Homo sapiens: one gene and its partners. The protein of the gene in region 1 purifies or fractionates together with the protein of each later gene. This does not show direct contact. Each region holds a gene or a part of one and is shown in the gene's direction. Other genes may lie near its edges.

Region 1 (7,777 bases):
AAATAAGCAGAATTGGAATTTTTATGGCCATTTTACAGATGAGGAAACTGAGGCTATAGAAAACGAATGTCCCTATCTTAACAAGGTCACATGGCTGATTTTCCCAGTTCTAGTCCAATGTTCTTTCCAGTCTACCATGCAGGGTCTGCTTTCCAACAACTGCTTAAACAAATGCACTCTGTAGCTCATCAAAGAACAATATTAGTTTGAAAAATAAAGACAGCCACTTCCTATTGTAGTGCATTTTTTTTTTGTTTCCATGATAGATATGTCAGTCAGCTGGATTCGTCTGATTATTTTCCAACTGTTCCTTCTACTTCTGGACTTCTAAGCTGTCTAAACACAGTAGCTGCTACCCATAATTTAACATAATTTAACACGTAAAATAATTTTCACAAAAAGTTTAATGCATCAATGTGATGTGGAATTATATATGTATTTGTGTGTTTGCCTCTGTGTGTGTGTGTACATACGAGTTTGGCATTATATCAACACATATTTGTGTGTTTTGAAGGAATTGATATTTTCTTAGATGATGCCAGTGGCATCCAAAAACAGTTTAATAATTAAAGGTTAATTTTCCTCCAGGGAAATTCCCAGTGGGATTCTGTGAAACTTCAGTTGACAAACTCAATGTGCATTTCAAACATGATATGATATGTGTTTCATATCATGTTTGATTATGTTAAGACTCTTGAGCATGTTTTCATTATCTCTTTGCTTTTCTTCCTTGAAAAAATATATCTTGGGGCCAGGAGCGGTGGCTCACGCCTGTAATCCCAGCACTTTGGGAGGCCGAGGCAGACGGATCACGAGGTCAGGAGATCGAGACCATCCTGGCTAACATGGTGAAACCCCATCTCTACTAAAAATACAAAAAATTAGCCGGACAAGGTGGCAGGCGCCTGTAGTCCCAGCTACTTGGGAGGCTGAGGCAGAAAAATGGTGTGAACCCGGGAGGCAGAGCTTTCAGTGAGCCGAGATGGCGCCACTGCACTCCAGCCTGGGTGACAGAGTGAGACTCTGTCTCAAAAAAAAAAAAAAAAAAAATCTATCTATCTATATCTTGTGTGAAAAATTTTAATTTAGTTACTAATAAAATTTTATACAAATACAGGACTCTCATGGCCAAACAACTGCCCTCATAATAGGGCTTATCACCCTCTTTAGGATTCCTACATATACAAGATTATTACTAACATGACCTAATATTTATTAATTCACTCATTATCAATTAATTCAATATCAAGTACTTGTGCAAGGATAAATAACATGTGCAAGATTATAGGAATAATTCAGTGGCAGCATTGTGATCTACATTTTTTTTGTTCTGGGGCTAGGTGATTCATTCTTTTTAAGAATTACACAAAGCTGAACTTGACTGTCAGCAAACATTATAGCCAAAATTTTGGCCAAAAATATGGGCTCCAGTTTTTTTTTTTCCTTTTATATATTTTGTAAGAACTATTAGACATTTTTAATAGTATTTTCTGTCAGGATGGCCATAAAGGACCTCCCTAAGCCATGAAGGCATAATCTGTTCTCCCTCTGCTTCAGGAGTGAACTGAACTCAACCATCTGGCATTGGTTTAGTCGGATTCTCTTTCTGTGATGGCAAGGCCAGTCCAAGCCACCCTGGAAGAATGAGTGATTTTGTCCCCTTTAAAGGATGGTTCTTTAAAACGTTGTCCACCTGGGTGAGCTCTGTGATGGGAGGGCAGAGGGAGGCTCCCTGGTGGCTGTGTTGGCTGTGCTTTAATTTCTCCTCTACTGTCACTAGTCATTCAGCTTTGGCTCCAAAGTTGTTACCTCAAACCCACCCACTTGCCAAAATCAATACTCACTTCTTTAGATTAAGTAGGTAGTTTAAAACCCTCCTTTGTGACTTAAATTTTCTCTTTGATGAGAAGGGGAAGGAGAAGTCATGTGGGGGTTTCCAATGACTTCATAAAACCATTCCTTCCAACATAACCCACTGTCTTTGAGAGGAGTTCTGATAAAGATAGTTTTCTCCATCCTGTTAAATGCCCCCCATTCTTTGGTGGCTCTATAGCTTAGCACCATGGGCTGCTGCCCAGCCAGCCTGGCCTCAAGCCAGCCCTAGGTCGGGGAGTCCACCATGTTCATCAGGAAGGAGAGAAGGAGAGTCAATGGACTGTCTCTTCCCTCATCGAACTCATGAAAAGGGTCTAGCCAATGAGGTACTCAGGGCCAAACTCACAAAGATCAGTGCAAGTGCTGCAACTTGTAACAACTTTGCTCTGTAAGTGTCTTGAGCTCCACTTACAGGAGGGGGCTATAAAAATAGCCTCCTTGGGTTTTTCATATATATTGGTTTACGCACCCATGGTATGGTGAAGATTATGTTAAGATACAGAAAGCCCAGATTCTGATTCCAGCTTTGTTAATTAACTTGGTGTGCAGCATTCAGGAAGTCACTGGGCATTGGCCTCACGGTGCTCCCTCAGCCCCATGCTGATAGTCTATAATTGGCAGTAGTGGGTATCGGGAATTACTTAAATAGCTAGGTCTTGGGGGTTCCTCCTCCACTTATTTTCTTAACTGTATTTGGAAAACTTTATTACTCTTTGAGATTCTCACTCTCAATTACTAATTCATCCAACAAATTTTTAATGAGAACTTACTATGTGCCAGAAACTGTAAACCAAAGAGACAAAATTTCATATTCTCCTGTAGCTTGCATTCTATTCCACTTTTTTCCCAAGGAATAGTGATTTACACTAGAAATGACTAGAAGTTAGGCAATTTTTCATTAGCTTTGCTACCAGCGAGCTAATTTATCACTGAAACTATTCTTTCAGGGGTTTTTCAAGTTTTCCTTAGTTCAACTTTTGGGGAAAAATATTTTAAACAAATGCACTTTGTGTCAGCTCAGATATTGCTAAAACTATCTTCAGAAAACTAACTTTTAACATAAATCTTAAAAACAAACACCTCTATCAAGATTGTCATAGCAATTTTGCTTTTCCAGTAAAAATTTTAACCCATTAATGATATGCAGTGTTTTAAAGGAAGTAAAATGCTCCCAGTCCTAATTACAAGCATCCAGTTTCATTTTGCATGAGCCTAAGGATCACAGAATTCTTTTTTTTTTTTTTTGAGACCGAGTCTTGCTCTGTCCCCCAGGCTGGAGTGCAGTGGCGTGATTTTGGCTCACTGCAACCTCTGCCTCCCGGGTTCAAATAATTCTCCTGCCTCAGCCTCCCTAGTAGCTGGGATTACAGGCACCTGCCACCATGCCTGGCTAATTTTTGTATTTTTACAGAGACGAGGTTTCGCCATGTTAGCCAGGCTGGTCTCAAACTCCTGACCTCAGGTGATCCGCCTGCCTCGGCCTCCCAAAGTGCCTGGATTACAAGCGTGAGCCACTGCACCCGGCCCACAGAACTCTTTTTATACTACTATGGTGCTCAATTGTGTGCCTGAGTTTTTGTTCAGACACTGTCTCCAAATCATACAACACTCAAATGAGGGAAAGTGGGAACTATAGTGTTTGTTCCCTCAGCATCTGAGGGGGACTGCTTTCAGGACACCCTCTTGGATACCAAAATCTGCAAATGCTCAAGTCCCTTACAAAAAATGGTATAAATTTGCATATGCTCTGAATCATCTCTGTATTACTTATAATATCTAATACAATGTCAATGCTGTGTACATAGTTGTTATACCATATTGTTTAGGGAATAATGACAAAATAAAGTGTACATGTTCAGTACAGACACAACCATTCATTTTTTTTCAAATATTTTCAATCTGCAGTTGGTTGAAGCCATGATGTAAAATCCATGGATGTGGAGGGCCAACTGTGTTTAACTTAATGAGTCTCTTTAAAGAATTAGATGAATCTAACAGCTGGAGTCCAGAGGTTCAATGTCCTTTTTCTCACCGTCAATGATCATTTATTGATTGATGCTAGGCATTGTAAGAGGATATATTGCTACTAAGAATGGCTATTTAGTAAGTGCTAGGCATTGGCCTAAGCACTTTAAATACCTTATCTATTAATACTTACCAACCATCAATGAAGCAACTCATTTTACATATGGAGAACCAGAAACTTAGAGAGGTTAAGTAACTTTTCCAAAGTCATGCAACTACTGAATGACAGGTTGGCATTGGGACCAGATTGTCAGATGCCCAAGCCCATTCAGGCTAACAATAGGTTCTCTCTCTGTTGTAAGCTAACAGGCTAACCGGGAAGATCAGTCAAAACACGTAAAATGATTCAAGAACTAATGAACTGAGTAATGTGTTACTACTGTCTCTAAGGACAAAAGGAGGTCAGAGAGAAGAAGAACATTTGGTTGAAGTCAGAGAAGGTAGTTCCTGAGCTGGCAGATTCAATTCCACTCAGAAAGCTTTGGTTGAACATTTATTTGAATGATTGATACTGTCAGAGATACAAATCGGAACAAAATATGCCCCTTCTCTGAAAGTGTTTTTAACTCCTTGAAGAAGAAAGTTAGTACACAGAATCTTATGATACAGGACACAATGGGCAAGTGCTAAATTGCCACAAACCTTGGAGCAAGGAAATACATAGGCTCAGAATTGAGGGAAAACTCGTGAGAGCCGTGGCTTTTGAGCGAGGTGCTGAAACTGGAGTAAGACAAGTAGGTAAAGCTCAGAGGTAAGATGGGAGAGCACGAAGAGGAAGTAGAGAGCAAAGGAAGGGCCACGCGGCGCAGTTTATAAAGCCTGCTCCAGAGGCGAGGCAAGGCTGGAAATAGGTGTAGGGCTGCACCTGGACATCTCGGAATGCTAATCTAAGGAGCGCAGAATCCATTCTTTACAGTGAGGAACCTCCTGTGACTCTTCAGCCTGACAGTAGCAGTGATGAAAGGCGGGAAGCGGGGTTGATGACCGAGGCAGTGCTGTGGTGAGGGGTGGGGAGGGTCTGCATGGTGGTGAAGGAGGTGGTGGGCACCAAGACAAAGAGAGGACGATGGGGGACTGCGTGAGACCTTGCAAAGGAAGATGCAGTAACTCAGCTTAGAAGTGCTGAGTATCCATCGTGTGCTAGGCCCCGGGATATCAAGGAATTAGGAGATGCCCTCGGGAGATCCAGGTGTAGCTGGGGAAGGAAACAGATAAAGAAGTTCAGCGGGATGTGGGAATGAATATGGTAGTGATGTGCACTGAGGGCTGGAGTCTGATCGGGTAGCCGCTGGGAGATGGGACAGGGAAGCACACACTTGCCTTGAGGTTCAAATTAGATAACGTACATCATTTGGAAATCGTTTACCAATAAGTCGTTATTGGGATCTATATTCTGGATGTGTTAGATTTGAAATATACAACCTCTATCAAGGTGTGACATCGGGAATAATATTTTTAACATTGTTCACAAGTACCTAGTATAGTGCTACGCCGTTGGAAGCCTGGGATCACAAGCTGTGCTTTTGGGCAATTAAATACAACAACCTATTCACTCATTCATTCAACAAATACTGATGGAGGGGCTCCAGTGGGCCTTGGGGTATAGACAAGAAACAGGGACTTGGGTCCATCCACACAGTGCAGTTGAGTGGGAAGTCAAAACCAACACGTGAGAAACGGTGGATGCCTTGGTACCAAAGTCATGCACCGTATCTTGGGTGAACGAATAGAACAATACTGCTTGCACTTTTACAGCATTCTACTGGTGGAAAAGTATTTTACAGACGCGATTCTCTTAACCCTTTCAGCAAAACTGCCCAGTGAGTCCCCGGCCCTGGCCCCGCCTCGCACGCGCTGGTGCTACAGCTGTGGTGCAGACGCCCTTCCGCTGCGAGGGTGCGGCCGTCTCGGGGCGAGTGCTTCCCGGCCTGCAGGAGGCGAACTCGGGCTTCCCCGGGAGGCGTCCGTGGGAACGCGCACCTGCGAGTCCCTGCCGGCTGAGGAGCCGAGGTCTGCGACCTCTGCCGACCTGAGCTCAGGCGCAGCAGCGCAGACCTGGCCGCCGTATCCCCTCTGGCTGGGATGCGGGCCCACGCGGGAAAGGCTGAAAGGTGGGGAACACCCCGGCGGAAAGGAACCCTCCCTCTCTGCTCTGAAGGAAAGTTTCCCAACACAGCCATGTTCTTGGTGGTCTCCGGTCCCCCATCCCCAAGCCCCCAGTCAGCCTCACACTCATCCGCTTCAGTAGCCGCGGAGTGGGGGCCTCCAAAGAACCCAGCTGCAGAGCAAGTCCGGCTGACGCAGTGTGCGCTGGGGGCGGGGCTCTGGACGGGGGCGGAGCCACGGCGAGAGCCGCGGTGAGGGCGGGGCCCGGGTGGGCGGTGCCCTGAGCGGGGCTCCTAGTGGGCGGGGCTCTGGGGTGGCGGCCGTTGCCGGGCTACGGGAGAGCGCGGAGCCCTGCGCTGGGAGGTGCACGGTGTGCACGCTGGACTGGACCCCCATGCAACCCCGCGCCCTGCGCCTTAACCAGGACTGCTCCGCGCGCCCCTGAGCCTCGGGCTCCGGCCCGGACCTGCAGCCTCCCAGGTGGCTGGGAAGGTAGGTGCGTCGCTGTCCCCGGCGCGCGGCGTCCCGCGAGGTCTTCAGCCCTCGCCCTGGTGGATCCCCGCTGGGTGGGAGCCGGGAGTGGAGGCGGCCGCCCTAGGGAGGGAGGAGCGCAGGCGGGGGCTGCTCACGGGCGGAGTACTGCGCGGCGAAGGGAACCCCCGAAGGGGCTGACCGGGTCTCGGGGCCGTGACAGGCGGCGAGGCGGTGGGAGGGGAGCGTGTGAATTCACGCCGGGTCCCCGCGGGCGACGCGAGCGACGCGACCTGGACTCCTATCCGGGATATTGTAAATAGATCTGCTTGTGAGGCTCACGACTGGGAGCCTGTCACTCTGCCCAAGCCCGACCCGGCCCCGGCGCCCGCCCGCGTCCTGCGGAGGTCCCCTGAGCCAGCGCGCGGCTGCAGGGGTCTCGGGGCCGCATCCCGGACCAGCGCCAGCGGCGGGAGAGCGTTGTCTGTGAGCGGCCCAGGGTATATTCCTTCTGTGGGAAAGAGTTCCTTAGAGTTCAGCAGGAATTATTAGTATATTGATGAGTAGAGCCTGTGATAGATTTAGAGAGTGAGAAAGCCAGCTCTTACAATGCGTGTAATGCCATCTCATGGGACAGAAATTTGGCTAATATACTCCTGGAGATCAAGTTTGGCGGATCAAAATTCTGTGATCTGTTTTGATGGTAGTGCACTAGTCATCCAGTCTCCGTTCACTATTGTAAGAAACCCATGTCATTTGTTTGCATGTTAATAAAGGACTCAATATGCATACAAAATCATCACCATTGTTCAGTGTTTCTTTTAACTGAAACAGTTTAACCCAAGATATGTATGAAGACGTAGTTTTTACCCCATGACAGTTTCTTTGACTACAAAACCAAACAATTTCTTTATGTAAACAGGAAACAGTTATTGTTAAACATACCTCATGCAAACGATATTTCTTAGTGTTGTCATTTCATGATCAGATATTAGATGCAAAAGGGAGGATTACATTGCGTTACTTCAGGATTTACTCAGTACCTTTTCTGTGGTGCAGTTTCACCTTAGGCGTTTTTGCCAACACTGCTTTCATGTAGTCTTAAAAATTCCAGGCAGTGCTTATTATCTAATTGAAAGGTATAGAACTGGAGGGGTGAGAATTGAGTCCTAGTGTGGAAGACAATTTTTGACATTCACAGAGATGTGAGTACTTAAAAAGAAAGCTTCTTTGCATAACACTTATCAAATTGTTCTGAAAGTAAAACAAAACATAGAAATGCATTTTCATTTGCACAATA
Region 2 (7,636 bases), on another chromosome or scaffold:
CGAGTGTGTGTATGTGTGTGTGTGGTAAGTACATAGCTGTTTGGGGCAGTCAGGAGATAACGATCATGATGTAGGACTGGAGGGAACCCAAAGAAAAGCACCACCTGCATGAAAGCCCAGCTGTTCCCCCTGGCTGAACTTATAGAGGCTTTTGCCAAACATTCTGGATTTTGCCACTGAACAAAGGGGAAGGGGGAAGAAGGAGAACTGTCAGTATGAAGAGAGATTATTTCCTTGGGCTTTGTCCCCGGCATCTCACAGGGCCTCTGGATTTGAGAACTTGCCCTGTTTGTTACTCTCTGTGGTCCCATAGCTAGTTCACGTAGTGTTTAAGCTGGAACATACCATGTTGAGCTGGGTTTAAGTCAAAGGGAATTTTCCAGACTTCAGATAAGAAACTTCAGCCAAGATGCAAAGCAGAGAGGTTAAGATGCTGGGCTCTGAAGTTGAACAGGTTTGGGTTCAAATCCTGCCTTTACCATTTATTTTCTGTCTTTGGAAAATTAAGTTAGTTAATGATAATTTCTTCATCTATGAAATTGGGATAATATCTTTGCTACCATAGGGTTGTTGTGAGGGTTAAATAAAATGATATGTGTAAGTTTTTAGCACAGTGTCTGTACATAGTAGGCACTTAGCAAATAAAATAAAGTAAAATAAAACTAGCAAACCAAAACAAGCACAGGTAGGGGGTGTTGCTGACATAGACCCTGATCTCTCATATTCCTGAGCAGTGATTCTTTACCCCAGACCTTGTGATATTTGACAATATTTTTTAGTTAGCATTCTAAAAATTTCTACTTTTCATTTTAAAATAACTATTTTTGGTGTGTAAAGCCTGTTTGCCCAATTGGGCTAATTTTCTGGAAAGCAATCTTAATTTATAGCCCACTAAGTGTGGCAAATACTGCTTGTATCTTGTAGAAATAAATCAAGTAGAGGTCAGCAATACATTGTTGAGTAAGTGTATAAGAAGGAGTCAAAGTGCAAAACTGGGTTTTCATTGCTGAGTTGCTGATCCAGCACCTGGTCTCACTGCCCTCCAGCATACCCGTAAAATGTAACTGCTAAGTAGACTCACTAATGTCAACTTAAATAATAACCACAGTGAATCTCTCTTAAAAAAAAAGTTACCTATTTGAGAATAGGGCATTGCAATGGGAATACATGTGCCATAGTAAACTACGTGCATATTCAGGAGGTAAAGGAAAACAAAAGTTCTTACAGGAAAAACAATGAAAATTACATAATTTTATTGAAATGTGTATTCTTGGCTACAAAGATCAATAACAATGGTGATGCTAATATGAAGTTGGACAGGCAGCTGCTGGACTGATGTCCTCACAGAAGTGTTTGTTGTGTAAGGCTATTATGGCCTTTGTGTAAGGTTGTGGTTTTTGCAGTCTTTTGTGATAGTTGTGTTATCAGGTGTACAAGCATGAGAACTCTCTCTTCGCAGCCTTCCTTAGCTCTATATTTGTCAAGGATTTTTTTGAAGACAAGTGACTCCATTTTGATTCTGACAACTTGCACACTAACTTATAACATCTCCTCACCAACTTTATAAACTAACAAACTTACACAGTCAATTACAGGCTCAGTCCCAATCTCTGCCAACTCATCTCCCCCAGCCCCACCTGCACACTTCAACCCACCTCCACTGGCCCAGCACACACATACAGTTCTTTAACCTCTACTTCTATGGTGCCCCAGCTCCTCACAGCTCAGTCCTGCCCCAGGCACACATAAAGACCTATTAGGCTTTGGAGGCAGGCAGACCTAAGTTCAAATTCAGGTCTAACTTCCTAGCTATGTGACCTTAGGTAGTTTACTTAAGTTTACTTACTTACTCTCTGTGCCTTGGTTTCTTCATCTATAAATTGGGTTAATAATACCTACCAAATATTCATCTTCTAGATACAGCCTCTGGCTTGTTACTTCCCTAACTTACCCTCAGTTCCCAAACCTTTCTGGAAGTTCTAAGCCCCATCAGAAAAAGCTTCAAACACCACCACAGAAGAAGGTCTAATCGGCTCTCCCTCTTGTTCTCCAACTTCACCCTCTCATACTGGCCTTCTTCTAACTCTGATCAGGCAGAAGCAACCTCAGCCCCCTCTTGCTCCCAAAGGTTGAAGCCCCTACTCTGCTTTTCCCTGGCTGGTATGCCTACCCCACCTTCACCCCAGGACTGGAGCCAACCTGTCCCCATGTAGACAGATCTCTCCAAACACAAAGCCTGCATCCTGCCCTCCTGCAGTCTGGAACTCCCCAGTGCTCTGTGCCCTGAGGGGAAGTGCTGGAGGCTGTGCTGTTGCTACAGGGCTGCCCTCAATACACCAGTCTCTTCAACCAAGGCCCTTACCATGCCTTCCTATCCTGTTGTTCCCTTTCCTGTCTGTTGCATGCTGATCTATAAGTGAGGATGGTAAAGATGGCTTTCCCTTCCAGAGTCACTCAGGAAGCTACACAGTATATATTATCTGCAAAGTGCCACTCAAGAGCACTCTTTGGGACTTGGCTTCTGAGCTCAGAAAACTTCCTCCTCAGGAATGGTTCTTCATGCATTGAGGATAAGTGTGATGTTCATAAGGTGCCAAAACTCAATGAGAGAAGAATAAATGGCAGCATGGTGCAACAGAGAGAACACAGGCCTGGAGTCTGAGGGGCTCTAGTCCAGCACCGTCTCCGCTTCACAGAGTGGCTACTTCTCTGAGGATTTCTCAGTGTTCTCATTTATGAATTGGGCTTAGCCATACCACCTCAGAGGATTGCTAGGGAGATCAAATAAGATGAGATGGTAATGAAAATGGAATAAAATCAAATGAAATGAAATGGCAATACCATTATCATTAACCTCTTGGGGACTTACCCCTGGGATGGCCAGGCTATAGACTTCATGAGAGTTGAAACTGCTGCCATCGTATTCAACACTGTATTCCTAGGGCCTTAGCCCTCTGCCTGAAATGGAGCAAGCTTTCCATAAATATTTGCTGATTAGCCACCAGTTGAGTTTCCTGTCCTTGCAATGAGGAGTTACCACATGATCATGGTAAGCCTTTTTTCTCATCAGCTACAAAATGCTACCTACCCATAGCATGGGGTGGGGAAGGTATTAACTTTTTTTGTTTTAATTAAAAATGAGACCAACTTTAAAGAGATGAAACTGGCTTTCTTGTGTCTCATACACTAGGTGTGAAAGGCACTTACAAAACAAGAATTCAAAAAATGTTCTAAGTAATAACAGTTCTAAGTAACATCACCACAAAAACATGTGTGCCCTCTCAGAGTGGCTACTTTGTAAAAGTTAACCTCAATAGATATATTCTTGAACATTTATATTAAAAAAGGAAACAGTGGCCAGGCACGGTGGCTCACACCTATAATCCCAGCACTTTGGGAGGCAGAGGCAGGTGAATCATGAGGTCAGGAGTTCAAGATCAGCCTGTTCAACATGGTGAAACCCTGTCTCTACTAAAAATACAAAAATTAACTGGGCATGGTGGCAGGCACCTGTAATCCCAGCTACTCAGGAGTCTGAGGCAGGGAATTGCTTGAACCCAGGAGGCGGAGGTTGCAGTGAGCCAAGATCGCACCACTGCACTCCAGCCTGGGCGACAGAGCAGGACTCCATCTCAAAAAAAAAAAAAAAAAAAAAAGGAAAGAGTCCCATAACTTTGTAGGCTCATAGAGACAAAGAATGTTCACCAGGACCCCAGCCTGTACCAAGCACTGCTGAGCCCATCACAATGGAAAGAAGCTTCCCTGTCAAGAGGACTCAGCTACAGAAGGTACCAAATGTGGTAGGAGGGGCCTGTTAATTAGACCAAGGCAGTCACACATCAGCAGGTAAAACAGAGACAAGAGGAGGTGTGGCTGGGCTGGGCTGGATCTTGGATGAATCAAGCCTTCCCATAGGGCAGGATATCCTGTCTAAAACAAGAGCCTTGGTTAAAACCCCTATAAAAGGTTCTCATCACACTGACCTGGTACTCCTCACACCACTTAACAGCCACTTGTTTCATCCCACCTGGGCATTAGGTAAGTCCCCTCATAAGAAACCTCTTTCTCATTCTCAGTGTCTTGGTGATCTGAGCTCATAAAACTGGGGCAGTCAGGTATGGACTATGCATCCTTCAGAGCTAGCTGTGAGCACTGGGCAAACCAACGCTACCGTTGGGAAACATGCTCTCCTGAAGCAATCAGGCTTTCTCCTCCTCCCTGAGGCTGGCCTGGGAGCAGCTCCTCTCACTGGGAAACTGTGTGGGCAGCGGCTATGGGGCCACCCATGTGCCTTCCTGGATCAGCAAAGGTTTCTTTTTTCTAAGGCTCTGGAAGCTTCTTTGCAGTGCTGAGAGTCTATGGGATCAGAATCAGTTTACTTATGCCAACCTAGACAATAAGATCAAACTGTGTCATGGATGAAGGGGTTTACATGATTCCCCTCTCCTACACCAGGGTGATATTTAGGCAAAATATGTGTAGATTTTTCTAAGGAATCTAAAATGTAACTAAAAGGTCATCTTATTATTTTATTATCTAAAGGTCAGTGGTTAAAGTCTGCTACATGGTTTTAAAAAAAAAGAAAGATATTTTTCATCTATGTTGAGGAAAACATCCCCAGTTTTTTACCTTGATGAAAAGTTTGCCTGAAATTGTTGGTTACCAGGTCCTAGAAAGGGTTTCTCCTGAACAGCCCACCTTTTGCTATGACTTACTGAGTCCTCATGGCCACACTAATCTGCTTTTTCTAGAACTCAAGTCTCCTTCCTTCCTTTTTTCTCTTTCTTCTCCTACCTATATCTGCCTCGTCCCATCCTCTCTCTGGCTTTCCAGCTGCTACAGGCTCCATCTCCCCTTGCATTTGAGACTTGTCATCTTTGATACCATCTCCTCCTTTGGGTCTCTCCAAGGCTTCTGCTTAATGAATCTTCAAGTCTCTTTTCCTTTTGCTCATGCAACCAAACCCAGGCCTCACCTCAACCTACCTCTAGATTTCTGGCTAATGAAAAAGAAAAGCTTTCCCTTTGATTAGGAACCAACTCATAGGTCACCAGAAATCTGGGCCTGATGGAGCCACGTGCCTGTTGGGCAAGCTGACTTCTCTGATAAGTCTCAGGGCTGTGGACAGAGGCGACATGCAGAGAAACTTGGACCCTCAGAACTGGAAGGCCTCCCACCCAAAGAAGGTTCCCCCCTCCTGAGCATTCCCAGCAGGTGGTAGCCCAGTTTCTTCCCACTTTCCCAAAAAAAACAAGAAGGGAGGGCTGTGTCCCTGGAATTTCTGCTTGGCTCCCATCCAAGACAGGGGTTGACTCACAGATGTATTTACTTCCTTTTGGTGTTCCCGATGGGACCCTAACACCCTTGTGATAAATAAATAAATCCTGTCCACAGGGTACATTCTAGAAAGCCCATTGCATTTGGGTTAAGGAAAAATGGATCCTAGGATTTCTTGGCTCCTTAAAAATTGTGTGGCCTAACTTCTCTGAGCCTGTTTCCTCACCTATAAAAAAAAGTGGAAATAATAAGGATTAGAAGAGATGATGTACAGGAAAGTGATTATATAGGTGTACAAAAATTATATGTGTGTATATGTATATAATAGCATAATAATTATATTTAATAAGGAGCACTTAATATAAGCCAGGCATCTGCCAAGTGCTTTTTATGAATTATGTCTTTAAATCTTCACAATAATCCCACAGAGTACTAATATCACCTTCAATTACAATGAGTAGTAAACTGAGGCATGGAGAGGCAAAGCAACTTGTCCCAGCTCACACCATACTTAAGTGGTGGGGCCAGCATTTAATCCTGACTCAGGAACCTGCCTCCATCCTGTGTGCTCCTCCTTCCCATACATAAGATGCATTATGTAGGAAAGGACAAAGGAAAACTAAAAACAGAGCTGAACGTGCAAGGAAAGACCTAGCAGCAGACGTGCTATAAAGGAAATAGCTGAGGTTGATTATGGAGCCTCCAAGGGAACTTTTCATCTTTTCCAGGTTGACTTCAAAGATGCCTCAGTTACTGCAAAACATTAATGGGATCATCGAGGCCTTCAGGCGCTATGCAAGGACGGAGGGCAACTGCACAGCGCTCACCCGAGGGGAGCTGAAAAGACTCTTGGAGCAAGAGTTTGCCGATGTGATTGTGGTACGGTGTGCTGAGCCGGGTGGAGAGGGGACATAGCAGGAGAGTGAAACCTGGTTTGCCTGCAGAGGCCTTGCCTGGGGAATTTGAGGAGGCAGCAGCTAAACCCAGGCCTGCCGGGACAGATGGCAGCTGTGCAGGCAGAAAAAAAGGTGAAAGAACCAGAGATGGTCATGGGAGTTGGCAAGTCCTGGCTCTTTAGATTAAAACCTTGGTTTTAATTAATTCTAACTTAAAGACAAGGTAAAAGGGCTCTAAAAGGACAACTCAGACAGGAGCAGAGCCTTGGAATATTTCAAAATGAAAATAATTGCTGCTTTCTGCCGCCTCTTAAATTTGATACAGTAAATATTTCCCACGTCTATCTGAAATGTAATCATCCATTCATAGACATTCATTAGAAGCATAGCTCTGGGCTTGCACGAAGCAGTTACTCAAAAATATTAGCAGACTGATCACATCAGAAATGAAATTTTGAAGAGCAGGTTGTTAATAGCTAGGGGGAGACTTTGGAGCCTCACCCCACCCCACCTGGCAAACCAGAACCAAGGCCTTGATGCACTTTCCTGTCTTTGGTTTGCATCTAAAGCAACCAGGATGATGATGGCCTTAGGGACAAGGACATATGGGCACAGAAGGATGCTGCATCCACATGCTCAGGGCAGCGCTGCAGGGGCCCACTGCTTCCCTCCCTCTTTATCATGGGGAAACATCTGGGCCTCAATGAGGAGCGCACAGAATTCCCATGGGGCTGTGTTCCCAACCTGCTGCTCTTTGTGCTGGGCCTGCTGAAGAGACTAAGGCCTCAGTGCCAGGGGCAAGGTGCCAAGGGCAGCCCAGACAGTCAACTTGAGAGCCCAAACAGTTGCATTGTGAATTCAATAATTTATTAACTCTTCAATAAATCTTTATCTAATTTTCCTGTAGCCCAGAAATTGTGCCAAATAGAGGCTACCAAACAAAAAATGCTCTCTACACTTGAGGGAGAGAGACGGGACTAAAAAAAAATAAAGGCAATTAAGTCTTGCTGCTGCTCTAGCCGTATGTGTGTGTAGTGTGGGGTCTGAGGCAGGGGAAGCTGGCAGCAGATTGGAAGGGACCTGCCCATGTCCTCCTCAGGGGAGGGATGCTGACTCCACCTCATCTTCTCCTCAGAAACCCCACGATCCAGCAACTGTGGATGAGGTCCTGCGTCTGCTGGATGAAGACCACACAGGGACTGTGGAATTCAAGGAATTCCTGGTCTTAGTGTTTAAAGTTGCCCAGGCCTGTTTCAAGACACTGAGCGAGAGTGCTGAGGGAGCCTGCGGCTCTCAAGAGTCTGGAAGCCTCCACTCTGGGGCCTCGCAGGAGCTGGGCGAAGGACAGAGAAGTGGCACTGAAGTGGGAAGGGCGGGGAAAGGGCAGCATTATGAGGGGAGCAGCCACAGACAGAGCCAGCAGGGTTCCAGAGGGCAGAACAGGCCTGGGGTTCAGACCCAGG
Region 3 (7,072 bases), on another chromosome or scaffold:
TCCCCAGTGTCCAATGCAAGGAAGTCACCATAGAATATCTCTTGAGGAATCATGGAATAAATGAATAATCAAATGGATTCTCAGGCGAAAAGTGAGGTTTTATTAATCAATCATAACATTCTTACCTCAACAGGTCAGAGATTGTCGTCTGTCTGGTCTTCTCGATCTTGCACTGGGGAAGGATTATGTGCGTTCTAAGATTGCCGAATATATGAACCATCTCATTGACATTGGTGTTGCAGGGTTCAGAATTGATGCTTCCAAGCACATGTGGCCTGGAGACATAAAGGCAATTTTGGACAAACTGCATAATCTAAACAGTAACTGGTTCCCGGAAGGTAGTAAACCTTTCATTTACCAGGAGGTACGTCAATACATATAGGCATATAAAATATCATCCTATTCATTAGAAAATTCACGGCAGATTCAATTAAAAATGCAATTTCTGTAGGATAAAGACTGAGTCATTTCCTTAAAACAGTGTTCTTTAACCTCCTCTTCTTCACATACAGCATATCTAATTCTTTATCACAACAGGTTTTATGGAGGTACACAGAATGTAGGATACTGATAATAGTTATGTCTTTATTTTCTTTGGAAAATGAAATGAGTTAATATTTATCAAAAAAAGTCAGTCAGATAGTAAATATCGTATTCCTGTGAGCTGTTATTATTATCATTGATGTACAAGACTAAAAATTAGGTAAGTATTCTCACAGGACAACAGGTAACTTTGACATTATGTTTCTTTCAATATTGTAGTGTATACTTTATCAAAAAAAGAATATAAGAATATTACCGATGAAGATAATAAGAATAAGAAAACGATTTTGAGCGTTTCATATAACAAATAGGACCAGGCGTGGTGGCTCTTGCATGTAACTCAGCACTTTGGGAGGCTGAGGCAGGAGAATTCCTTGAGGCCTGGAGTTTGGGACCATCCTGGACGATATAGCAAGACCCTGTCTCTAAAGAACAAAGCACAACAAGTCTAAAATAACTCAGAAATAGCTGAAAGCTAATTTTTATATAATATAAACTTATCGGTTAAAATGCTTTAAAGTCCTTATGCAAAATGTTTTTTTTTCCTAAATTTCTTCTAGGTAATTGATCTGGGTGGTGAGCCAATTAAAAGCAGTGACTACTTTGGTAATGGCCGGGTGACAGAATTCAAGTATGGTGCAAAACTCGGCACAGTTATTCGCAAGTGGAATGGAGAGAAGATGTCTTACTTAAAGTAAATAAATACAACTTTTCCCCTGAACTATTTCATAGATCTGTTAGTCATACTACCCCAGTGCGAGTTATCTTCTGGAACATTCTTATTCAGACAACTATTAAGGAGTCAGTTGTTAATGATAAGTATTCTAGTGCCCTAAACTCTAATCAATCATCTTTTGTATTTAGAGTGTCTGTCACAAGACAGTATGCCTAGGAACGCTAAACTTACCCTAGGAGTTTCTGTCTGCGTACAAGATGAATATACTGGATTTGACTGATGTTTGCATATAATCTTTTAAAGCCAGGTTATTATTAAAATGATCCTATCATTTATAAAGTATGTACAAAGTGTCCATGCTATTGTATTTACTTATACGAATTGGAAATGTAAAATGATTTATATTATAACAATACAATATTAAAGCCTTATTTTAATCTAGTTTGACATTCTGTATAATGTGATGTGGATATTGATCCTTCTGGAGTGCCTCTAAATGATAATGTGCTGAAACCTCTGAAAGGAAATTTTTTAATAACAAACATTTTATATTTGTAATATGAATATAAGTATTCCATACATGTATATACAAATATGGACTATATATATGTAGATTACACACGTGTGTTTGTTTATGAGGTGTGTGTGTATATATATGTGAGTGTGTGTTTGTGTGTGTGTGTGTATATATATATATCTTACAGAGTAACCATCTAATTAGAGAAAGAATTTAATCTTCAGATGCCATGCCTTACAGAAAGAGATGCACAGTAGAGTTACTCTCAAACTATTGTGAAATGATACATCAACGTATATCTTATGTTTCAAAAATAGGAACTGGGGAGAAGGTTGGGGTTTCATGCCTTCTGACAGAGCGCTTGTCTTTGTGGATAACCATGACAATCAACGAGGACATGGCGCTGGAGGAGCCTCTATACTTACCTTCTGGGATGCTAGGTAGAAAACCAAGTTCTCTATTTTTTAACACCTCTTTTAATGATGGTATGAATATTGTGATATTCTATGATAATATAATTATGTAACTTTCAGGCTGTACAAAATGGCAGTTGGATTTATGCTTGCTCATCCTTATGGATTTACACGAGTAATGTCAAGCTACCGTTGGCCAAGATATTTTGAAAATGGAAAAGTAAGTTTTGGAGTTGTTCAAAATATCCTTTTCTCAAGAAAAAAGAGGCAATCTTCTCCTAATTTAATATGACAACTATTAAGTGTTTATTTATTCAACAAATATTTAATTATTGTAAACCTGATACAGGGTTGTGATTTAGTAATGCAGGTTATATTAAAGGAATAAACTTTATATTCTCCATTGAAAAAGAATAGCAAGCTTTTTCAGAGATATGACAAACATCCCCCTAGCCCGCAGGGAAAATAAAAATAAAAATTAAAAAAACCACTTAAAAATAAGAGCTAGGCACAGGGATTAAAATATATACTTCGTACCTTCCTCAGGTTTAATTGGAAGAATATAGATGCCAACCCTTGTAGAGAACTTAAAACATCATCTGCCCGTAGTGAGAACAATATAAATGTCTTTTAAATACTGTTAAAAAGTTATATGGTATAGAAACAAATGATCCAGTTCAGCTGAGTTAAATAGGGAAAGTATACTATAAGAGGAAGGAAATTGTATGTACTAAAGGATAGAAATTTATAGAGAGTATTCCAAGAAAGGTAAGAATGAGAAAAATATTTGGGAGTATGGTAAAGACATCACTCTGCTGAGTAGTTTCAAAAAGGAACAGAGAAATAAGAGTGTAAAGATATTTGGAAAGCTAGTAGAAGGTTTTCTTTTAAACTAAAGGGTTGAGAAACAGCATCAGAGACTTCAGAACTAAAGCAGAAATTCCTCCTTCCTATGAGTCACACAGATATCTAGCTAGCTTTTTTTAGATTCCTTTCAGTTTGAGAAGTCCGCTACTATGTATAACAACTGATTCTATTGTTAAACAGCTTTAATATTTAGAAGGTGTACTTTTATATTGAGACAACTTCTTATAATTTCTACTAATTGGTCTTATTTCTGTTGTTAGGAGTCAGAGAGTTCTTTTATTTTTTCTATTACTATAACATTCCCACTTTGACAGGACTGCTGCATGCTATAAACTCTTAAGTTTTGTTCACTTTTCACCATATGACGTGATTTTAAGGTGAACACTGATAAACTTCCTAGGGTTACTCTGTGTTTTTTAATGAAGATTTCTTAAAGTGCCAATCAGAAAAGCATAATACTAAAAATATGGTCAATTTATAAAAAAAAATGTTCAGATGTAGTATTTTGTACATTTATCTAAAAAGAAGCATGACGGCCTCCAATATTTATTTAGCATATGTCATGTTCAAGGCATTTTCACATATATTACTTAATTTTTATAGCAAAAGAACTCATTATTCTCATTTTACAAATGAGGAAACTGAGACACAGAGAAATTATTTATATTGATTAAATTTTCTCAGCTACTAGTAATAGAGCCTATGTTTTAATCCTGGTGTTTCTAGTACTAATGCCCTTCCCATTTCAATGCCATTGCATGGCTTACAGTGATGTTAAGAAGCCCTTGCAGGCCAGGTGCAGTGGCTCACACCTATAATCCCAGCACTGTGTGCGGCCAGCTGAGAAGGTCAGCTGACCTGAGGAGTTCAAGACCTATCTGGGCAAGCTAGCAAGACCTTGCCTCTACTGAAAATTAAAAAAAAAAAAAAAATTAGCTGGGTGCGGTGGTGCACACCAACAGTCTTAGCTACTTGGGAGGCTGAGATGGGAGGTTCGCTTGAGCCTCGGAGATCAAGGCTGCAGTGAGCTACGATCATGCCACTGTACTCCAGCCTGGGTGACAGAGCAAAGAAGTCTTTGCAGTGCCTTGGAATGAAAAGGAGAGGATAACAATTTGCTACCTTTGTTTGAAATATGGCAAAAGAGAACCAGAGGATAGAGAGATGATGAAGACCCAGTAAAGGGCTATAAAAATCAATGAAGGCATTGGATTCTAGATAAAGTCACTGAATGCAGAGACACAAGTAACAGGATAGGTTGGGTTTGGTTTAAAGGAGAAGGAAGAGATAAATATATATATGCTAAAATTTGGCTTTTCCTCCTGTAATTAAGGATGTTAATGATTGGGTTGGGCCACCAAATGATAATGGAGTAACTAAAGAAGTTACTATTAATCCAGACACTACTTGTGGCAATGACTGGGTCTGTGAACATCGATGGCGCCAAATAAGGTGAGAATATGTATTTAGACATGTCCTCTAATAGTAAATTTCCGTAGCACTTTATTTAAAACAGTTGAAGTTTAAGAATATCAACGTTTTATATGGTATTGTGTTTTTAGGAACATGGTTAATTTCCGCAATGTAGTGGATGGCCAGCCTTTTACAAACTGGTATGATAATGGGAGCAACCAAGTGGCTTTTGGGAGAGGAAACAGAGGATTCATTGTTTTCAACAATGATGACTGGTAAGTAAATATCAATTAAAAATAATATTTTGTACCAGTATGTTCTTGGTTTATTCTTTTTTTTTTCTGTTCATTGACATTTATCATATCTGAAAAATCATGTAGTCAGTGGAGCGAGAAGACAATAGAGATCAAAATTGGGTAGAAGCAAAAGGATGATGGCTGTTACTCCTTCGTTCTCCTGTTTTCATAAGGGCTTTCTGTTGTAAGCAGAATCCTTTCTGTGCACCCTTGCAATATCTTATGCATATATAGAATGCACATTCATATGCTTACCTACACATGCCACAAAATACACAAAGTAATTAATAGAAGGATTGTGAAATCATTAAAAGAACGTTTCTTATAGTCCTGCTCTTTTAATCATGGAAAAATGCTGCCTCAGTACTAAAATATCTTTATTTCTCTTTTTCTCAATGACAGCTCTACCTAGTTTTTTGGTATACTTTCTTCACTTCTCTGTCTCCTTGTGACAAATAACATTTTTAAAGCATATGGATAAATAATATGTATCTTGTGGTTAATGATTTGCTTCAGGAGACTTGAGTTTTAGTTCTGAAACTTCTCATTATTGGCCTTTCATCTGTGATTTTTGTATCCTTTGGCTGTAGTATAAATGATTCCCGAAACTGTAGCTGAGAAGACCTCCTTGCAAACAGTTGAATTGTCTCTGTCCAAGGCCAACTGACACTCATACTTAGCTCACTCTAGTATAAATTATACTTCACTTATGAAAAATAAATAAATACAAAAATATATAAGTCAAGTTGATCTCTTTCCTGCCAAAAAAATGCGTGTCTATTTCCTTAGTTTCCTTCTTTTGTGGATGAAAATACCAAAAAAATCTTTTGTGAAAAAGCTTTATATTTCAAACTATCACTTCCTCATACAAATGCTAGATTGTTTTTATGTACACCCTAAATTCTTTTTGACCTCATGTAGAATAAAAGAAGGTTAAAAAAATAATACCCTTTAAATTTTTAAAGTAATTGGCATTAAGTTCAGTTGAGAAAAAATTTGATTTTACCAAGGTAGCACTTTATCAAAATGTGACCGCTCCCGCCAATCTTCGGTGATATTCTTCAACTTTGATTTTTCGGTTATATTTTCACTACTGAAAAGGAAATTGGTAGGTTTTCTGTAAGGTTACTTTTGGTCCTAGAAAGCTGTTTACACCTACTAGGGAGGCATATGGGTTTTCTTCTTAATGAGACTTCACTGCTTAGGGTTCTAAAACATAAAGTTATGCTGTTTATTTGTGTTAGTCTGTATTCTTGATTTCATTGTTTTGAAGTTAAATCTGAAATTTTATTTTACAGGACATTTTCTTTAACTTTGCAAACTGGTCTTCCTGCTGGCACATACTGTGATGTCATTTCTGGAGATAAAATTAATGGCAACTGCACAGGCATTAAAATCTACGTTTCTGATGATGGCAAAGCTCATTTTTCTATTAGTAACTCTGCTGAAGATCCATTTATTGCAATTCATGCTGAATCTAAATTGTAAAATTTAAAATTAAATGCAAATCCGCAAAGCAATAGCTAAGTGTGTTTCTTTTCTTACATATACAGTAATAGTTACATATCATTAATTTTAAATAAAAGCTCTAATTAGTAAAAAGAGGTTTAAGACACTTGATAGTATGAAATACAATTCCAGGTTACACATAAGTTATTTATTTTGGCAAAAGGATGACTCAAAAATTTTAAAACTAGGCAACAATCTTTACTCATTAAGAGGTAAGACTTAGCTTTCCAAACAGTTTGTCTCCTGTCTACTCTTTTCTCTCCTTGGCATTCTACCAACAAGGCAAACCAAATATTTCATTATTCTTCTCTATTACATGAAAAATCTGTACAAGGGAAGGAAAGCCAAATTTTACCCTTACATAGGTTTCAAAAGAATCCTTTTTCCATAGGCAACATTTACATTTTTATGCCTTTTTATAATCTTTTACCACAAACACATTTAAGTGTTCCTACACACCTTGCATGTAAATTTATTTTTAGTTGTCTTATTTACATATTTTTATGGTCAATCTTAGCAATTTTTAACTTTAATGTAAACCTGGTAAGTTGTTTTAATTATGTACTAGATGCAGATAAAGTCTGACTTTTTCCATTCTAGTTAGGGCATGGTTAATTTCATATGTCCCCAGGCCTTACCAAGTTGTAAAGTAGGCAGCCTACAACCTTGAAATATTTAGCAAGCCTTTTATCTAATTTATGTGATTTAAACCTGCTATTTACATATTGATGATATTTGCATTTTCCAATTTGATCTTTAAAACAGTTTTTATTTCTTAGAGTTTAAAAACACATAAACTAAAAGGCATTACGGTTTTAACTTTCCTCTAAAATATTTG
Region 4 (7,777 bases), on another chromosome or scaffold:
GGTTCAAGTGATTCTCCTGCCTCAGCCTCCCGAGTAGCTGGGATTACAGGCATGTGCCACCACGCCCAGCTAATTTTGTATTTTTAGTAGAGATGGGGTTTCTCCATGTTGGTCAGGCTGGTCTCAAACTCCCGACCTCAGGTGATCCGCCTGCCTTGGCCTCCAAAAATGCTGGGATTACAGGCGTGAGCCACCGTGCCCAGTCAGGACTGTGGCTTTTGAATGAGATGGGGTTACTGTTTGGTTTGGGACCGAGGATAGACATGCTTTGGTTATAGTCCTCCTGTCAGTAAAATGGGAATAATAATAACACATTTGTTGTGAAGTTTGAATGAAACAAGCCACATAAGGCACCTAAGTACAATGCTTGTTAGAGGTCAACAAATGTTGGTGACTTGTTCTGGTCTTGGGTCAAGCCAAGAGACTTGGGATTTGTTGGCAGGGAGATGGGTGGAGCAATGCATGTTTCCAGTATGAAGTGGGATTGGGGGCGGGGGTCCTCCTTCATTTTGGAGGGAGAAATACCGAAAGACAGCATGTGATGGGACTCTGGAGCCTTGCTGCCTTTCTTCAACCACTGGCCCTGCCACTAGTTAACAATGTGACTTTAGAAGTTTGTTTGTTTGTTTTTGAGAAACAGAGTCTCACTCTGTCACCCAGGCTGGAGTGCAGTGGCGTGAGCTCACTGCAACCTCTGTGTCCTGGGTTCAAGCAATTATCCTGCCTCAGCTTCCCCACTAGCTGGAACTACAGGTGTGCACCACCACACCCGGCTAATTTTTTTATTTTTAGTAGAGACGGGGTTTCACTATATATTGGCCAGGCTAGTCTCGAACTCCTGACTATAGTTGATCCACCCACCTCGGCCTCCCAAAGTGCTGGCATTACAGGCATGAGCCACCATGCCTGGCCTGACTTTGGAAGTTTAATTTATCTCTCTGGCCCTCAGTCTCTTCCTTTGTATTTCAGAGTCAATGCTTGTAACCATCTTCTAGGGTTACTGGGAGGATTCGTTGAGCTCACACACATCAGAGTTACAAGAGTGCTGGGCTGGTAGAAAGCACACATCCAGTGTTATATGCGCACGTTACTCTTTATTAACAAACCAGAATTTCATCACAAGGCAGCGTTGTTGCAGCAGAACGGCCCACAGTCTGGCATCAGAAAGACCTGGAATCAGTTACCTGCTTTCCTCTTTATTGGCCACATGACCTTGGAGGAATGCCTTCCCCATGCTGCTCCTCAGTTTCCCCACTTATAAGATGGGCCCAGTCATGGTACAGGACTGTGCTGCCTCCAGGCAATAACAAATATCAAACTGGTCAAACAATAAATGTGAACCGTTAATACACTTGCTGTGGGACTCCTGTCCCTTGGTGGTGGTGGTGGAGGGGTGGGTCCCTCCCCATCATGCTTCTCTCTGCATAAAACCCTCCTATGACATCCCCTCTTAAAAAGATACCAGTTTAGGCTTGAGTTGTATGAAAGAGGGAATGTTTCTGGTTTCCTAGTGGAGATTATCATAAGCCTGATCAATTCTGTCCACCACTGATGTATCCCCTTCAGCATCTCCACACCCTGCCCTCAGTGCCCTCCTCATAACATCACTGTCCCCAGAATTGCTTCTCCCAGGAATTCCTGGGATCATTTAGCTCCATTTCTGCTACATGTCCCCCTCCGTTCCTCTGGGAGTTTGATCAGCTTAGTCTCATCGCTTTGTTCATTCCACAAATACCAAGATAGACATTCACAGCTGTGCATTTCCCTCTGAGCATTGCTTTGGCTGCACCTCCTCAGCTTTGGTATGTTGTGTTTTCATTTTCATTAATTGCTAAGCAGTTTTTTTGCTTTTTGTTTGTTTGTGTTTTTGAGATGGAGTCGCGCTCTTGTTGCCCAGGCTGGAGTGCAGTGGCACGATCTCAGCTCACTGCAACCTCCACCTCCCGAGTTCAAGCGATTCTCCTGCCTCAGCCTCCCAAGTAGCTGGGATTACAGGCGCCCACCACCAAGCCTGGCTAATTTTTGTATTTTTAGTAGAGACGGGGTTTCGCCATGTAGGCCAGACTGGTGTCGAACTCCTAACCTCAGGTGATCCTCCTGCCTTGGCCTCCCAAAGTGCCGGGATTACAGGTGTGGGCCACCGCACCTGGCCAGCATTTTCTAATGTATGATTTCTTTGTGGACCCATTGGTAATTTAGGAAGGTGGTGTTTCCTTTTCACATACCAGCAGATATTTGTCAAGCACCCACACTGGGCCAGTGCTACGCTAAGTGCTGGGGTCACAGGGGCGAGCAAGACAGGCCAAGTCCTTGCTTTCCTAGAGAGGGGCCAAACAGTAAACACACAGAAAAGGAATGACATGAGTTGGTGGCAATAACTATAATGAAACACCTGCGGCTGGATGAGGGACTGGAGAGTGATGGGGTGGGGAGTGCTGAGTAGAGACCCAAGGAGGCTCCAGAGGGAGTCTTGTTGAAATCTGGCGAAGAACACTGTAGGCAGAAGAGAAAGTAACCACCACCCTCTCCCACCAGGCCCCTTGTATAGACACCCCTCATAACCCAGAAGACATCCCTAAATAAAGCTCTTATCCTGATAGTTCTCCCCTCACCTTTGTTCACTCGGGGAACAGCCCAGTGAAACACTGCTGTGGGGGCAAGGGTGGGAATGGGGTTCAAGCCCATTGATCCAGACTCCTACTCCGTGACCATGGCAACTCACTTTGCCTCTCCATGCCTTAGTTTTCTAATTTATCCAACGGCGGGAACAGCTGCCCCTATTTAGAGTTGTGGGGAGTCAGTGAATTAATATGTGTAACGTGCTTAGAACCGTGGCGGGCCTCTAGGAGATGTCCAGTCAGTGACAGCTACGATTAACCTGTGCTCTAGTGGAGACAAGCTAGTCAGGGGCTTCTTTCCCCAAACACTCTTGCCCTCCCTCCCCATAGCGCCCTAAATCACCCCCTATTCCCTGCATCCTTATGGCCTGTGTTTGCCTCCCTGGCCAGTCAGCCCCCTCCAGAGCTGTCTCCCCAACTTAGGTTCCACCTACAGCCTTCCAATTACCACCCCAGCCAAGCCTGTCCTCTTTCCGGAGATCAGATTAAACGGAGGGGGTGTGAAGGGCATGGGATGTTGAGTCTTGTCCAAGGACAAGGACACCCGGAGCTGGAGACTAAAAATATCTCACTCCAGGATGGCGTTTGGGGTGGGGGTGGAAGAGACACTCACCCCTCACCTGTGGGAGGAGAGAGCAGCCCGATGGATAGAGGATAAAGGGTCCAGGCCTTGGTAGGAACCCCCTTGACCCCCATAGCGGGCTGGGCTTAGAGCCTGGCCCCCATCGGGTAGGGATGATGGACAGGAAGCGGGTCAGACCTCATGGGCCCTTCACCGACTCACCCTCCGCCCACTTGGTGGAGGTGCTTCCCCAGGCCAGCAAGTAGACCAAGAACTCGGAGATCAGTTACGGGTGCTGAGGGTCTGGTGTGGTGTGGGGTACACACATGGATACCTGCCATCTGGAATGAAAAGTCGTGTAAAGGAGGTGCCAGAGAATGATGCCGGGGGTGGAGGGTCAGGAGAAGCCCCACTAAGGGCAAGGACATGGGGGGGTCAGGAGAAGCCCCACTAAGGGCAAGGATGGAACTCAAGCTCCCTGCTTCTGTTGCTAGGCTTAGCCCAGGTGTGTGATGTCATGGATGGTACAAATAGCTCAGGGGGTTGAATGCATTCTGCTGATGCATGTGTTTCATTATGTTCTGTTCCAACCCTGTTGAATCTCCCTGCGGTATAGGGGTTCCCCCATTTTAAACATGGAGAAAGTGTGGATCCCAGTGGAGATGGGATTTGAACCCAGGTCTGTCCAAGCCCAGGGTCTGTGTTTTGATTGTATCAGACCACCTTCTGACTATATGCCAGCCCCCTTGCTGGAATTTGTTTCTCCCAGGCAAGCAAATTCTCCTTTCTACTGTCTATTAATATTAAAAGAGTGCACTCCCCATACTGACTTTTTTCAGTTCTCTAGGCTTGTCCTGACTTCCCCATTTCTACTACTAGTAGTAACAGTGATAACAGTATCGTATCTTCAATTTTTTAATTTTAGTTTTTAGAGCCAAGGTCTTGCTCTGTCACCCAGGCTGGAGTACAGTGATGTGATCACAGCTCATTGTAGCCTTCACCTCCCGGGCTCAAGCAGCTCTCCTGCCTCAGCCTCCCAAAGTGCTGGGATGACAGCTGTCAGCCACTGTGCCCAGTCCATACCTTCTATGTACGGAGTGCTTACAGAGTGCCAGGAACCGCCCCCTAAGAGCCTTGCACATATGTGTGTGTTGAATCCTCACAGTCCTGTGAGGTAGGCATGTGCTTTGTGGTCCCCAGGTGTAGATGAGGAAATGGAGGCACAGAGAGGTTCAGTCACTTGCCCGTGGCCACACAGCTAGAAGTGGCAGGGCTTACATTTGATTCTGGCCCCAGAGTCCTCCCTCCTAATTACGCTGATAGAAACTGTGATTCCCCTTATCATTATGCTCATTTTAGGATAAAACCTGAAGGGATGAGGACGGAGGGCTGTGGGTGGGGTAGGGTGCAGGAGTATGGAGAGACAGCAGAGGGTCTGAGAGGGTTTGGAAAGAAAACTGAGTCCAGAGGCCCCCAGGATGCTTGGACAATTGGAGTCTGAAAAGGAGAGAAAGTAGAGACGGCCCAGGCCAGCGCGCTGGCTCACATCTGTAATCACCCAGCACTTTGGGAGGTGGAGGCTGGAGGATGGCGTGAGTCCAGGAGTTTCAGACCAGCCTGGGCAACAAAGCAAAACCCCGTTTCTACAAATAATAGAGGGCCTGCAGGTGGTGTGGAGGAGAGGGTCCCCTCTACAAAGCTGTGTCAGGACCCCAGAAAAGATGGGGAGAGATGGAAGGAATTAGAGAAGGAAAAGAGGTGGGGAGTGGGTGGGAGTTGAGAACACAGAGAGGGAAGGTGAAGGTGAGTAGGAGAGTCCTGGGGCCAGGGAGCCAAGAGGAAGGGCTGCCCTTTGGGGTGGACAGGCAGAGGGACTGGAAGCCTAAATCTGGAAGGCTAGGGGGTGATCCGCACAAGGATGGATGAGTGGGCGCACAGCTCCATTCACCTGCGGGGAGACCCAGCGCCGCGGCCGTGTCCTCAGCCCCGTCCTCCTCTTCACAGGGTCTCCCGTCTCCCACCCGCCGGAGATGGAGGCGAACCCAGCGGGCAGCGGCGCCGGGGGTGGCGGGAGCAGCGGCATCGGGGGCGAGGACGGGGTGCACTTCCAGAGCTACCCCTTCGACTTCCTGGAATTCCTCAACCACCAGCGCTTCGAGCCCATGGAACTGTATGGGGAACACGCCAAGGCGGTGGCGGCCCTGCCCTGCGCCCCCGGCCCCCCGCCGCAGCCCCCGCCGCAGCCCCCTCCCCCGCAGTATGACTACCCGCCCCAGTCCACCTTCAAGCCCAAGGCGGAGGTGCCCTCCTCGTCCTCGTCCTCGTCCTCCTCCTCCTCCTCTTCGTCCTCCTCGTCGTCATCTTCGTCCTCTTCCTCTTCCCAAGCCAAGAAGCCCGATCCGCCCCTGCCGCCCGCCTTCGGGGCGCCCCCTCCTCCCCTCTTTGACGCTGCTTTCCCCACTCCGCAGTGGGGCATCGTGGACCTCTCGGGGCACCAGCACTTGTTTGGGAACCTGAAGCGAGGAGGGCCCGCGTCCGGGCCGGGGGTGACGCCTGGGCTGGGCGCTCCCGCGGGGGCCCCAGGGCCGCTTCCTGCCCCCTCGCAGACCCCGCCAGGACCCCCCGCGGCGGCGGCCTGCGACCCCACCAAGGACGACAAGGGCTACTTCCGGAGACTGAAGTACCTGATGGAGCGGCGCTTCCCCTGCGGCGTGTGCCAGAAGTCCTTCAAGCAGTCCTCGCACCTGGTCCAGCACATGCTGGTGCACTCGGGGGAGAGGCCCTACGAATGCGGCGTCTGCGGCCGCACCTACAACCACGTGTCCAGCCTCATCCGCCACCGCCGCTGCCACAAGGACGTGCCACCGGCCGCGGGGGGCCCGCCCCAGCCCGGCCCCCACCTCCCGCCGCTGGGCCTCCCAGCACCCGCTGCCAGCGCCGCCACCGCCGCCGCCCCCTCCACGGTGTCCTCGGGCCCTCCAGCCACGCCCGTGGCGCCTGCCCCCTCCGCAGACGGGAGCGCCGCCCCTGCTGGTGTTGGGGTGCCCCCTCCTGCCACCGGGGGTGGCGATGGCCCGTTCGCCTGCCCACTCTGCTGGAAGGTTTTCAAGAAGCCCAGTCACCTCCACCAGCACCAGATCATCCACACGGGCGAGAAGCCCTTCTCCTGCTCCGTGTGCAGCAAAAGCTTCAACCGCAGGGAGAGTCTGAAGCGCCACGTGAAGACGCACTCGGCCGACCTCCTGCGCCTGCCCTGCGGCATCTGCGGGAAGGCCTTCCGCGACGCCTCCTACCTCCTCAAGCACCAGGCGGCCCACGCGGGGGCGGGCGCCGGGGGGCCTCGGCCCGTGTACCCCTGCGACCTGTGCGGCAAGTCCTACTCGGCTCCGCAGAGCCTGCTCCGCCACAAGGCCGCCCACGCCCCGCCCGCTGCCGCTGCGGAGGCGCCCAAGGACGGGGCGGCCTCGGCCCCGCAGCCCCCGCCCACCTTCCCCCCGGGCCCGTACCTCCTGCCCCCCGACCCTCCCACCACAGACAGCGAGAAGGCGGCGGCGGCCGCGGCGGCGGTGGTGTACGGCGCTGTGCCCGTCCCGCTCCTGGGCGCCCACCCGCTGCTGCTCGGCGGCGCGGGGACCAGCGGGGCGGGAGGCTCGGGCGCCAGCGTCCCAGGAAAGACGTTCTGCTGCGGCATCTGCGGGCGCGGCTTCGGGCGCCGCGAGACCCTGAAGCGCCATGAGCGCATCCACACGGGCGAGAAGCCCCACCAGTGCCCCGTGTGTGGGAAGCGCTTCCGCGAATCCTTCCACTTGAGCAAGCATCACGTGGTGCACACGCGCGAGCGGCCCTACAAGTGCGAGCTCTGCGGCAAGGTCTTCGGCTACCCGCAGAGCCTCACCCGCCACCGCCAGGTGCACCGGCTCCAGCTGCCCTGCGCCCTGGCCGGGGCAGCCGGCCTCCCCTCCACCCAAGGCACACCGGGGGCCTGTGGGCCCGGGGCCTCGGGCACGTCTGCAGGGCCCACCGATGGGCTGAGCTACGCCTGCTCGGACTGCGGCGAGCACTTCCCGGATCTCTTTCACGTCATGAGTCACAAGGAGGTCCACATGGCAGAGAAGCCATACGGCTGCGACGCCTGCGGCAAGACCTTCGGCTTCATCGAGAACCTCATGTGGCACAAGCTGGTCCACCAGGCCGCCCCCGAGCGCCTGCTCCCGCCCGCACCCGGCGGCCTGCAGCCCCCGGACGGCTCCAGCGGCACGGATGCGGCCAGCGTGCTGGACAACGGGCTGGCGGGGGAGGTGGGGGCGGCCGTGGCGGCACTGGCAGGGGTGTCTGGGGGTGAGGACGCAGGCGGGGCGGCGGTGGCAGGTGCTGGCGGGGGTGCCAGTTCCGGCCCCGAGCGCTTCAGCTGTGCCACGTGCGGCCAGAGTTTCAAGCACTTCCTGGGCCTCGTGACTCACAAGTACGTGCACCTGGTGCGACGGACCCTGGGCTGCGGCCTCTGCGGCCAGAGCTTCGCGGGCGCCTACGACTTGCTCCTACACCGCCGCAGCCATCGGCAGAAGCGGGGTTTCCGCTGCCCGGTGTGCGGGAAGCG

Evidence for each region.
Region 2: the proteins of TNFRSF19 (region 1) and CRNN purify together in Homo sapiens (affinity purification with mass spectrometry; 2 studies listed by BioGRID and IntAct, with this or other methods). This does not show direct contact.
Region 3: the proteins of TNFRSF19 (region 1) and AMY1C purify together in Homo sapiens (affinity purification with mass spectrometry, with the first as the bait; 2 studies listed by BioGRID). This does not show direct contact.
Region 4: the proteins of TNFRSF19 (region 1) and ZNF865 purify together in Homo sapiens (affinity purification with mass spectrometry; 2 studies listed by BioGRID and IntAct, with this or other methods). This does not show direct contact.

The regions. Positions count from the first base shown.
Region 1 is NC_000013.11:23,573,032-23,580,808, forward strand, and holds part of TNFRSF19 (tumor necrosis factor receptor superfamily member 19 isoform 2 precursor), read left to right. Parts: intron 1-6,328; exon of another isoform or gene 6,329-6,498; intron 6,499-7,777. UniProt on the Homo sapiens protein: Can mediate activation of JNK and NF-kappa-B. May promote caspase-independent cell death.
Region 2 is NC_000001.11:152,410,616-152,418,251, reverse strand, and holds the start of CRNN (cornulin), read left to right. Parts: upstream 1-3,988; 5' UTR 3,989-4,038; intron 4,039-6,005; 5' UTR 6,006-6,018; coding exon 6,019-6,156; intron 6,157-7,308; coding exon 7,309-7,636. UniProt on the Homo sapiens protein: Promotes cell proliferation, G1/S cell cycle progression and induces expression of the cell cycle regulator CCND1. Regulates proliferation induced by pro-inflammatory cytokine response via activation of NFKB1 and PI3K/AKT signaling pathways.
Region 3 is NC_000001.11:103,752,446-103,759,517, forward strand, and holds the end of AMY1C (alpha-amylase 1C precursor), read left to right. Parts: intron 1-133; coding exon 134-364; intron 365-1,103; coding exon 1,104-1,237; intron 1,238-2,053; coding exon 2,054-2,176; intron 2,177-2,269; coding exon 2,270-2,369; intron 2,370-4,349; coding exon 4,350-4,468; intron 4,469-4,578; coding exon 4,579-4,704; intron 4,705-6,023; coding exon 6,024-6,213; 3' UTR 6,214-6,247; downstream 6,248-7,072. UniProt on the Homo sapiens protein: Calcium-binding enzyme that initiates starch digestion in the oral cavity.
Region 4 is NC_000019.10:55,608,409-55,616,185, forward strand, and holds part of ZNF865 (zinc finger protein 865), read left to right. Parts: intron 1-5,184; 5' UTR 5,185-5,210; coding exon 5,211-7,777. UniProt on the Homo sapiens protein: May be involved in transcriptional regulation.